Linked DNA regions of Homo sapiens. The protein of the gene in region 3 purifies or fractionates together with the protein of the main gene of each other region. This does not show direct contact. Each region holds a gene or a part of one and is shown on either strand. Other genes may lie near its edges.

Region 1 (3,328 bases), on a different chromosome or scaffold from region 3:
CACCACCTCATAAAGATATCTGCTTTCCTGTTTATTATAACACATCTTTATTCATAATAGCCAAGATACGGAACTAACTGAAGTGACCATTAACAGATGAATGGATAAAGAAATTGTCATATATATAAAACACACACATTATATACATACATACATATATATATATATATAAAAAATAGAATATTATTCAGCCTTGTAAAAAGAAATCCTGTTATGTTGGGAACAAGCCCCCCAAAATCTGGCCATAAACTCACCCCAAAACTGGCCATAAACAAAATCTCTGCAGCACTGTGACATGTTAGTGATGGCCATAACACCCACGCTGGAAGGTTGTGGGTTTATGGGAATGAGGGCAAGGAACACCTGGCCTGCCCAGGGTGGAAAACCACTTAAAGGCGTTCTTAAGCTACAAACAATAGCATGAGCGATCTGTGCCTTAAGGACATGTTCCTGCTGCAGTTAACTAGCCCAATCTATTCCTTTAATTCGGCCCATCCCTTCATTTCCCATAAGGGATACTTTTAGTTAATTTAATATCTATAGAAACAATGCTAATGACTGGCTTGCTGTTAATAAATACATGGGTAAATCTCTGTTCTGGGCTCTCAGCTCTGAAGGCTGTGAGACCCCTGATTTCCCACTTCACACCTCTATATTTCTGTGTGTGTGTCTTTAGTTCCTCTGGCGCTGCTGGGTTAGGATCTACCCGACTGAGCTGGTCTCAGCACTGTTATTTGAAACAATGTAAATAAACCTATAGGGTTTATTATATATACTAAGTGAAATAAGCCAGACACAGAAAAAAAATGTTGCATGATCTCACTTATAGTGAAACTTAAAAAAAAAACCCAAATACATAGAAATAGAGTAGAATGGTGGTTACCAGAGATGAGGAAAATACAGAGACACAGGTCAAAAGATACAGAGTTGCAGTTACAAAGGGTGAGTATGTCTAGATATCTAACATACAGTATGAGGACTATAATAGTATTGCACTGTGTACTGAAAACTTGATGACAGATTTTAGATATTCTTACCACACAGACAAAAAGAAATGTAAGTATGTGAGATGAAGCTTATGTTAATTAGATTAAGTGTATGTACATAAAAACATCACATTATACACATCAAATATATACAATAAAAAAGCACATTGGGAGATACATGATAAATTTCTATCTGCAGTTGCTATTTGCATTTTTAAAGGATATTTTTATTTTTTAAATTTTTAGCTGACAACTGTATAATTATGGAATACAATGTGATGTTCTGATATATGTGTACACTATGGAATGATTAAATCAAACTAACATTTCATCATCTCACATACTTATCATTTTCTGTGGTGAGAACATTTGAAATTTATTCTCTTGACAATTTTGAAAGATCCAATACACTATTATTAACTATAGTCACTATGCTGTGCAATAGATCTCAAAAGCTTATTCCTCTTAACTGAAACCTACTACCCTGTGACATGTGGGGAACATCTCTCTATTCCCCAGCCCCAGTCCCTAAATGTTGAATACACAATGGGGAAAAAATAGTCTTCAATGAATGGTGGTGGGAAAATTGTATATCCACATGCAGAAGAATAAAATTGGACCCTTACCTCCTACCATATATAAAAACCAACTGAAAATCGATTAAAGACTTAAACTGTAAAACTACTAAAAGAAAATATAGGGAGAAAGCTTCACAACGTTGGTCTGGGCAATAATTTTTGGATTTGACCTCAAAAGTAGATGCAACCACAGTGAAAATAAACAAATGAAATTGCATAAAATAAAAAATGTTTCTGCACAGCAAAGGAAATAATTAATGGAGTAAAGAGACAACTTACAGATTGGGAGAATATATTTCCAAACTATTGTTGGGGCTCAGAAACGGATACCCTAACATATAGTGATTTGACAGGTGGAACTAAAGAAGACTCGAGGTCTCTCTGACCTCCTCCTCAACCTCTGTTTCTTAATCCTCTGTTTTCCCAGAGCACAGGAGGAAGTTCTCTGAAGTTCCTTTATCTGCTTTAAGTTCAGACTCACCAAATAAGAAAACAGTTAATTCTGGTGCCTTCCATGGGTTTTCATTAACTGAAGTCATATTGTAGGAAAAAGAATGAAGTCTCTTAACCCACCTGGATAGATTTTTCTCACAAACCATTGTCTTCTCTGCAAGCCCAGTAGACTTTGTCCCAGGCCATTTATGTGATCTTCACCCCATTAAGTTCTCCCCAAATTATTTACTCTTCCCCCAAAATCACCCACACTTCCCCATCTCCCTCTCCCCTAAGGACAAGGGTATATCACCATCTATACCCCATTGCTTGGTGGGGTGATCACTCTGATTCTCTGCATGCATTTTTATAGATTTGTTTGCCATTTATCCTATTAATCTGCATTCTGTCAATTGTGGCAAGTTATCAGCATATTTTTTAACTTTTAATTATTCTTAATGGAAAGACACTTCTGTATACACTGGAAATCTCAGGAAATTTCTTTTTTCCTTAAGCTTAATTGAAATGTTTACTTTTCAGTAAAATTTCAAGCTTGAGTAATGTTCATGCCTGCTTTTCATTGAAATAGAATGAAAAGGTTGCACAATATTATTTTCATGAAATTACTTCTAGTATAATTCTGAATAAACACTTTGAAAGGCAGTGAACTGTAAATATATTACAGCTATCTCTTATTCTTCAGGGTGGGTCTCAATTATGTAAAAGATGATTGGCTTTCTGTTTTAAGTAATAGTCATTTTGAAAACACTTTAAAACTGTCAAGTGAAGTGTGATGGCTAATTTTATATGTCAACTTGACTGAGATAAGGTATACTCAGCAGGGAAAGCATTATCTCTGGATGTGTCTATGAGGGCTTTTCTGAAAGAGATTGATGTTGGAATCACTAAGCTGTGTAAAGATGATCTACCTTCACCAATGTTGGCAGGCATCATCCAATCCGTGCAGGTCTTACCCAAACAGAGCAAAAAGTCAGGTAGGGTAAATTTATTCTCTTCTAAAGCTAGGGCATCCATTTCTTTCTACTCTCAGACATTGGAGTTCCCCAGTTTCCCAGACCTTTGGCCTTACACTGAGAATTATGCTTTGTTTTATTTAGGCATATTTTAATAATACTTCATGTATTGGTCAGGAAGACATTTCCTGGTTCTAAGGCTTTCGACTCAGACTAGATTACAACACTGGCTTTCCTGGTTCTCTAGCTTGCAGAAGAGAATACTAGGAAGCTTGTACTTCCTACATAGGTAAGAAGAGGAAACAATCTCTGGCTTAGAAACTATGTAACCAACCACAATTCACAAAGATTCCATAAT
Region 2 (3,657 bases), on a different chromosome or scaffold from region 3:
CTGACAAGTTTCCAGAGCTTAGAGGAGTGCTTATATTACTAGACCGTTATTGACTGCTCACTGAACAAATGACAGAAAGAAACAAATCTTATCAATTAAAGTCTAGCAGCTAACATGACTAAGGTACTAAGATAGGGAGGATCCACTCAAGACTGCAGGTATCCTCCCTATTTACGTGAAATCTATCCATTTCAAAAACATTTAATGAACCAATATTTAAATGGGGACCCGTAAAGTTTCAATCTCTAATTTTTCAAAGAGATAAAAGGAGTAAGCTGGCCCTTGGAAAGCAGGTGCAGGCCAAATCCAAACTATTTGAGAAAGCTTATATATATTAACCAAATGCCCACTTAAAAATCTTTAAAAACAAGGATTCCAATGAGCTATTTTTTCTCCAATGGTTAAAGTAGAAGCAATATATACGATTAATTACATAGTTATAACCATATTTACTCACCCTCCTAATAGTATCTGTGGCTGGTTGGATTCATTTGTGATACCAAAAATATCAGGAATTAGATCACCATTGAAACTGAAAAAAAATTAAAACAATAAGCAGCTATTTCTTTAAATTCTTACTTCTAATTTAGCTTTAAAAGAAGCAGTAACTTTTGGGAAGTGTGGTAGACATTACAATGCTCGCCAGTATCTAGTGATAAGTATTAAGTCAAATGTCAGCACAAGTGACATGTGTCACTTTTAGGCCAAAGTGTATAATTTCTGTTACCAGCCCCTCCAGCCCTCTCCAGGCTTGCCATGGCAATGAGAAGGCATTGTGATTCAGATGGACTAGCTACAAAGACAGTGGGCTCTCTGATGGCCTGACTCTAAGCAACAGCACAGAGCAGAGCCTGTTGTTGACCCACACTGGACATATAGTAAGAGCAAGAAATAAATTCGTTTTGTGAGATTTTGGGTATCTCTGTAATCTTTGCATTATCTAGACTACCCTTGAATGATAAGGATACAGCACTAATTCCTAGAAACTTACTTCAGAATCCTAAGCCAACTTGTTTACTTAGATGGGCTTAGGAGAAATAACCTAGAAAAATAATCCTAGTTGGTATAAAACTTCATACTGGCCATTGAATATTTTAACAACAATGAAAAAATACACAACTATGAAAGAAATCTAGCGGGGCACCGTTAAGAAGATTAATCCATGGATTTACAGTTCAGACTTCTAATGGCCACTGACACACTGCTGTATGGGTATGATTTTAATAACTGTAAGAAAGACAGTACTGGAAACAAGAATGTGGCCAAACTTTGCTCTAGTCCCGGGAATGATCTCGACCTCTACCAAAATACGCTGTCAGAAATTTGCAAATCCAAATTTACATCAATTATTTAAATCAATTATGCTGGTACATGAGTCTACAGTGAGAATATAAATGATAACACAAAGCAGGAGTTATATTATAAAAAGAACAAAAATTTCTCCTTAATATAGGAATCTTTCTAAATTTCTAGAGGAAACTGTATCCTAAATATCAAATATAACAGTTTTACTCAAAAACAGGTATCTTAATTCTTTCAGTAATGACAGCATAGATCCATAATGGACACATTTGAAGCGACTGAAATAAAAACACAAATCTCTTCTACTTTCCAAAATAATAAATTTCATTTTTCTTTGTCCTATCTGATGGCAAATAAATACAATATAATCAAAGGTACAGGCCTCTGAGTGAATTTAGTATTTTTATTACTAAGCAAAGTAGTTTCCTATGTGAAGATTTTATTTTATGTTTAAGTTTAAAATCGTTTCAAAGGAAGCAAGCCCATACTTACTCCATAATTAGTGGCTCATCTTGAAAAGTCCTATTGAGTATGGTCATATTGTTAGGATCTGCAAAAAAGATATATATATATATGAATTAGCAGGCATTTTATATTACTTTTGATATCTATGCTTAGGAAAAAATATTCTTCTACTCTTTTCTAGATTTATCTCTGATTTATTCCAACTATTATCATTAATGAGATACTATAAATCTAGTTCAAATGAACATCAAGCTTGCAAAGACAAAATATTGGGAGAATACATTCTACAGTGAAGACTAGCATTACAATAACCTCCTTTTGAGGTATGCATCTAAATATTTGCTAGCTGAGTCTTTGTCTTTACACAATTTAGTGCTAGAGAGGTTGACAATTAACAAGGTTTTGGTGTAAAGAAGGCCACATATGCAAAACTTCCTGGTTCTAAAATGTACATGCTTATATACAAGCTTTGTGCATGGTACTCCCTCTGTAAATATTTATTGACTTAATGAATATAATGTATCGCGATTACTGTTTACATTCCCAAATGGTGCAGAAAACATGACTGAAATTTGGCTCCATGAACAAAGTTGCCTATTTAGGTATAACTAATTGGCTTTTCAGATAAGGCTTGATGATTTGTGACTAGGTATGGTAGACTGACTCTCGAACCATACTTCAACTTTTTTGTGCTTTCCTGTGCTAAGGAGACTAGAAACCAAAAATAGCATTTTCCAGATATTGTGGCATCTGAGATGCTGAATAAAAGTTAAGCCTTGCCAATCAGATACACTGTGAGTCTTAAAGGCATGAATGAGGTAAAGGCTGTTTCTCTGCTATTTCTATCTGTGTCTGCTCACTGAATTTGGGAGTATCAAGAGACCAGGTGCAGCATTCATTTTGCTAGTGAGAATCACTGCAGGCACAGCATCATTCTGGCAGCAGTTGTGTAACTAGCCACTTCTGATAGGGGAAAGAGGCAGTAGCTTTTTTGATGATATTGGGATTGCTCCTGAAAGCTCAACCTAGAGTTTATTCTTTAGCCATCTCAATGATTCTGTGAGCCACTAAAATCCTTTAATAAATCTCTGTCCTCTTTAAGCTAGTAAGAATGAAGTTTGTCAGTAGAAGTGATCCCTGCCCAGTTCAGGGTTGAAAAAGAAAAATCAGGAAATAAACTTTGAAAAAAGGTTTTACAATTATTGACACCCAAGAACAGTATTTTTGAACTGATTTCAGAACAATATTTTGTTACATTTACCTTCATATTCAATGATAAATATTAAAAATTTTTAAAACAAATTCACCTAATGTTTGATTTTGTCCCCAGAAGATAACAGCTCCTAATTCACTCTTGGCATAATTTTTGGGAAGATATGTCAGAAGGACATCCATTTGAGAATCTCCATCATAATCCCCAGGGACTACACTTGTTATCAATGCACTGTGATTCCTAAAAGAAACAAGCATTTACAAATATCAGACAAGTTGTAATGGAAAAGGACAATTCTGTATTTCTACCACACAAAAATATTTTCAATGAAAAACTTAAAACTTAACAGAACTGACTGATTGCCTTCTCTTTCCTATCTTTTCATCCATCATGTATTTAGACCTCTTTGGTCTAAAAAAGAGTTCAGAATGAATGCAGAATAGTCTCAAGAAACAAGACAAATCTGAAATATGTCGAGAGAAAACGTGTTTATTATGTTCAAGCAATGGCTAGTATAGCCCTTCTATATAGTTCCTTTGTCAAGGACACCAAGACATTCGGATGGTGTTTCTAACAAATGGAGGCTCATAATTGCCAAAGCAGTAAGCATTATCACTGGGATGTTTTCAATTAAAAGATATTATTTATAAAATATTTAGTTTGGATTTTAACATAAA
Region 3 (3,657 bases):
TCCTCACCCTAAGCAGTGACTGCATCTGCTGGTGTGTCCCAGGCCCGCTACGTCCAGGCCAAGCTGAGTGTGCACGACCGCTCCCTCAAAGTGGCCACGGTGATCGAGAGCCTGGAGATGGAGATGGAACTGCTGTGCCTGACGGGCGTGGAGGACCAGCTGCAGGCAGATGTGCGGCCCACGCTGGAGACCCTGAGGAATGCTGGCATCAAGGTAGGGCGGGCTGCCCGCAGGGAAGGGCACTCCAGGGCAATGCCAGTTATCCCTCAGCAGTGCAGGGAGATCACAGGGGGAAAGGGTGGGAGGAGCAGCAGAGGACACCAGGAGTGCCTTATCTGCAATGGGCCACAGGCACTGTTTCTGCCCCTCCAACTGTGATTTTTTTTTTTTTTTTTTTTTTGAGACGGGGTCTCGCTGTGTCGCCCAGGCTGGAGTGCAGTGGCATGATCTTGGTTAACTGCAACCTCTGCTTCCTGGATTCAAGCAATTCTTGTGCCTCATCCTCCCTAGTAGCTGGGATTACAGGCACGTACCACCACGCCTGGCTAATTTTTATATTTTTGTAGATAGAGGGTTTCACCATGTTGGCCAGGCTGGTTTTGAACTCCTGACCTCAGGTGATCTGTCTGTCTCAGTCTCCGAAGTGCTAGGATTACAGGTGTGAGCCACTGTGCCTGGCCCTCCAGCCCTGATTTTGGAAGACATCTTGTGTAGCGTTTGCCTTTACTGTACCGATGACTCCCCTGACTCCACTGGGCTCCCTGGTGCTCAAGGCCGAGCAGTGTCCAGCGTGCATGGCTGCTGATTAAATTCTAGTTGAGTGATCAGCACGCCGGTCTGTCTGCCGTGTGGCCAAGTGAGTGAGTGACCACCCAGCAGAGTGACCGTCAGCGCCATCACACTGTCGTATTAGCATTTTGCACTCTACCAGTGGCGACCCAAAAAAAAATACTAGGAGTTGAATCTGGAGGGGCCAGCAGAGGGCGCGTGAGGACCTGGTCCTCAGTGGACCAAGGGAGGTGTGAACAACCAAACTCATTGGCCTGGAGCTCCTGGAAACGTGTGCCTGCCACCGGCCTCCACTCAAAAGTGGCTCTCTGCTGCATCCTGGGGCCTGTCCTTTCAGCAGGGCCATGGCAGGAGGACAGGTTAGATGCCAGGCAACATTCAGGCCCACTGGGGACTCCCACCCCTGCGTGCCTGTTTCCTTGTAAACCCAATTCTGTCGCTTGCATTTGGCTCACAGGCCTGGTTCGTCATAAGGAAATCACCAACGGGACCTTGCTTCCGGAAGTCTGGCCGCTGGAGGCCCATTTCTGCTTCATCGTGGGGTCTGCAGTGGGGCCCTGGCCATTCCTAAGACTTCTGGAGTTTCCATTTTCTGCTTCCATCTTTGTCCTGGGGTTTTTCTCCTTCTCAAAACTATGTTAGCCCAAGACGAGATATTTTATTCACAGAGTGTGCATGTGACTTACCATTCTAGTTTCCTGTTAGATGACAGGAGGAGGGGAGTGCCTGGGATGGGGCAGGTTAGTTGGTAATTAAAGTCTAAGATACGATCTTGCACAGGAAATTTTCTTTTCTTTTCTTTCTTTCTTTCTTTTTTTTTTTTTTTTTGAGACAGAGTTTCACTCTGTCGCCCAGGCTGGAGTGCAGTGGTGCGATCTCGGTTCACTGCAACCTCCACTTCCTGGGTTCAAGAGATTCTCCTGCCTCAGCCTCCCAAGTAGCTGGGATTATAGGTATGTGCCACCATACCTGGATAATTTTGTATATTTAGATATTTAGTAGAGATGGGTTTTCTCCATGTTGGTCAGGCTGGTCTCGAACTCCTGACCTCAAGTGGTCCACCTGCCTCGGCCTCCCAAAGTGTTGGGATTATAGGCGTAAGCCACCGCGCCTGGCTGCACAGGATATTTTCTAAATCAGCCCCTTGTATGGATGTAGAAACTGAGGCTAAGTGAGGCGTCTCCATTCCCCAGGTTCTCACATTGGGAAGCAGCAGAGCCGGGACTGGAGCTGGGGTCTTGGACCCTTCCTGTAGTACCTTGCCTTCATCACAGCATGGGACATTAGCCATGTCGTGCACCTGATCGTTCTTTTCATGCTTTTCTGGAACTTGAACTTCCCAATTCCTTCCCCAGTGTTTGTTCTCTTACCTCAAACCCTGAGAACTATGACTAAACGAAGCTCACCAAAAAGAATATTATTTTTAGGACAGGCGGGATATTGAGGGAAAACAGACCCAGCTAGGGGAGAGGGCCCGGGAGGCTCAGCCCTGAGAGGTGCCCGGTGCCTTCCTTCTGCCCGTCTCACTGCCTGGGTTTCCATCCTACCTCTCCCTTTACTTCTTCTGTGACCCTTGGCAAATGACTGAAGCTCTTAGCGCTTCCATTTCCAGCCTCCAGAAGCTGTCATGAAGGTAACAGAGAGCTCAGCGTGGGTGCTGGGCACGTAGTGGACACTCAGGAGACAATTGTCATGATCTTCTTTCCTATACTTTCCCTCCTATCCAGATTTTCTTTGACCGATAGCCCCAAGACTGCTCCCAGCTGGGAGCAAAGAGAACAAAAGGGTTAATGAGGTAAAATCACAGAGCAGGAAGCACATTCCATGAGGACTCTAAAGACCCGGATTCTGGGCCTGGTTAGGACAAGAGGTAGCTGTGTGGTTTGGGGCAAGTCATCTACCCTCTCTGAGCCCACAGCAGAGAAATGCAGTGTGAGCTAATGCACGATACGGAAGAACCTGACTCATTTACGGTCAGCGTTTTATAAGCTGAGTTAAACCCCAGAAGGGTCTGTCTTGCTCATCCAACTACATAGAAAGTCCACAGCGTCAAAAATGAGTGTTTCCTGTAGGACAGGGAAGTGCCCCCTCACCTGTACAGCCTTTCCCTTCTTTTAGGATATTTATCACTTTAAGAAAAATCCTCAGAAGGGGAATTATGCGGTCCAAGGACCGAGCTTCATAGTACCTCCTGTAGTGTGTGGCCAAATGGCCCTTTCTAGAAGCATCTGCCAGTTTTTGCTGCTACCAGCAGTGGTTGCTTGGAGTCCCAGAGCCCTTCAGCCAGGGCGCTTGCTGTGTTGTGTTGGGGACAGCATGAGTCGGCAGGAGGTAAACGGAACATACCAAGTTCAGCTCCATGTTGTTGGAAACTCAGCTGTTGCAGATGACAGGCCGGCCTCAAAAACTAATAAACAGGACCTCTGTCACGCCATGATTTCAGGTTTGGATGCTGACAGGGGACAAGCTGGAGACAGCTACGTGCACAGCGAAGAATGCACATCTGGTGACCAGAAACCAAGACATCCACGTTTTTCGGCTGGTAAAGTGTCCTCTGCGTTAGGGCCATGTGGGGATGATGTTCGATTTGTCCTATAACCTCCTAACCTTGAGTGGGCCCCTTAAGAAGGGAGGGGCAGCATGTGAATTACCTAGGGTGGGGAGCATCAACCACGGTTGCTTTGGATGGGATGATTAATGACCCAGGCGCCGGCTGGAGAGTTTCTTCCAGTAGTGGTTTGGGAGTACCTCCTTCTAGCCCTGTGCTAATGCCATGCTCTTAACCTTTTGGGGGTCGTGGTCCCTTTGAGAAGCTGATGAAAGTCAGGCACTCCCCCCGAAAGATGCAGATCCACTCATACACATGAA

The links.
Region 1: the proteins of ATP9A (region 3) and CLEC2D purify together in Homo sapiens (co-immunoprecipitation; one large-scale study listed by IntAct). This does not show direct contact.
Region 2: the proteins of ATP9A (region 3) and ITFG1 fractionate together in Homo sapiens (co-fractionation; one large-scale study listed by BioGRID). This does not show direct contact.

The regions. Positions count from the first base shown.
Region 1 is NC_000012.12:9,696,883-9,700,210, forward strand, and holds the end of CLEC2D (C-type lectin domain family 2 member D), read left to right. Parts: 3' UTR 1-2,671; downstream 2,672-3,328. UniProt on the Homo sapiens protein: Receptor for KLRB1 that protects target cells against natural killer cell-mediated lysis. Inhibits osteoclast formation. Inhibits bone resorption. Modulates the release of interferon-gamma. Binds high molecular weight sulfated glycosaminoglycans.
Region 2 is NC_000016.10:47,450,939-47,454,595, forward strand, and holds part of ITFG1 (T-cell immunomodulatory protein isoform 1 precursor), read right to left. Parts: intron 3,221-3,657; coding exon 3,075-3,220; intron 1,853-3,074; coding exon 1,795-1,852; intron 533-1,794; coding exon 458-532; intron 1-457. UniProt on the Homo sapiens protein: Modulator of T-cell function. Has a protective effect in graft versus host disease model.
Region 3 is NC_000020.11:51,621,748-51,625,404, reverse strand, and holds part of ATP9A (probable phospholipid-transporting ATPase IIA), read left to right. Parts: intron 1-42; coding exon 43-213; intron 214-3,232; coding exon 3,233-3,331; intron 3,332-3,657. UniProt on the Homo sapiens protein: Plays a role in regulating membrane trafficking of cargo proteins, namely endosome to plasma membrane recycling, probably acting through RAB5 and RAB11 activation. Also involved in endosome to trans-Golgi network retrograde transport.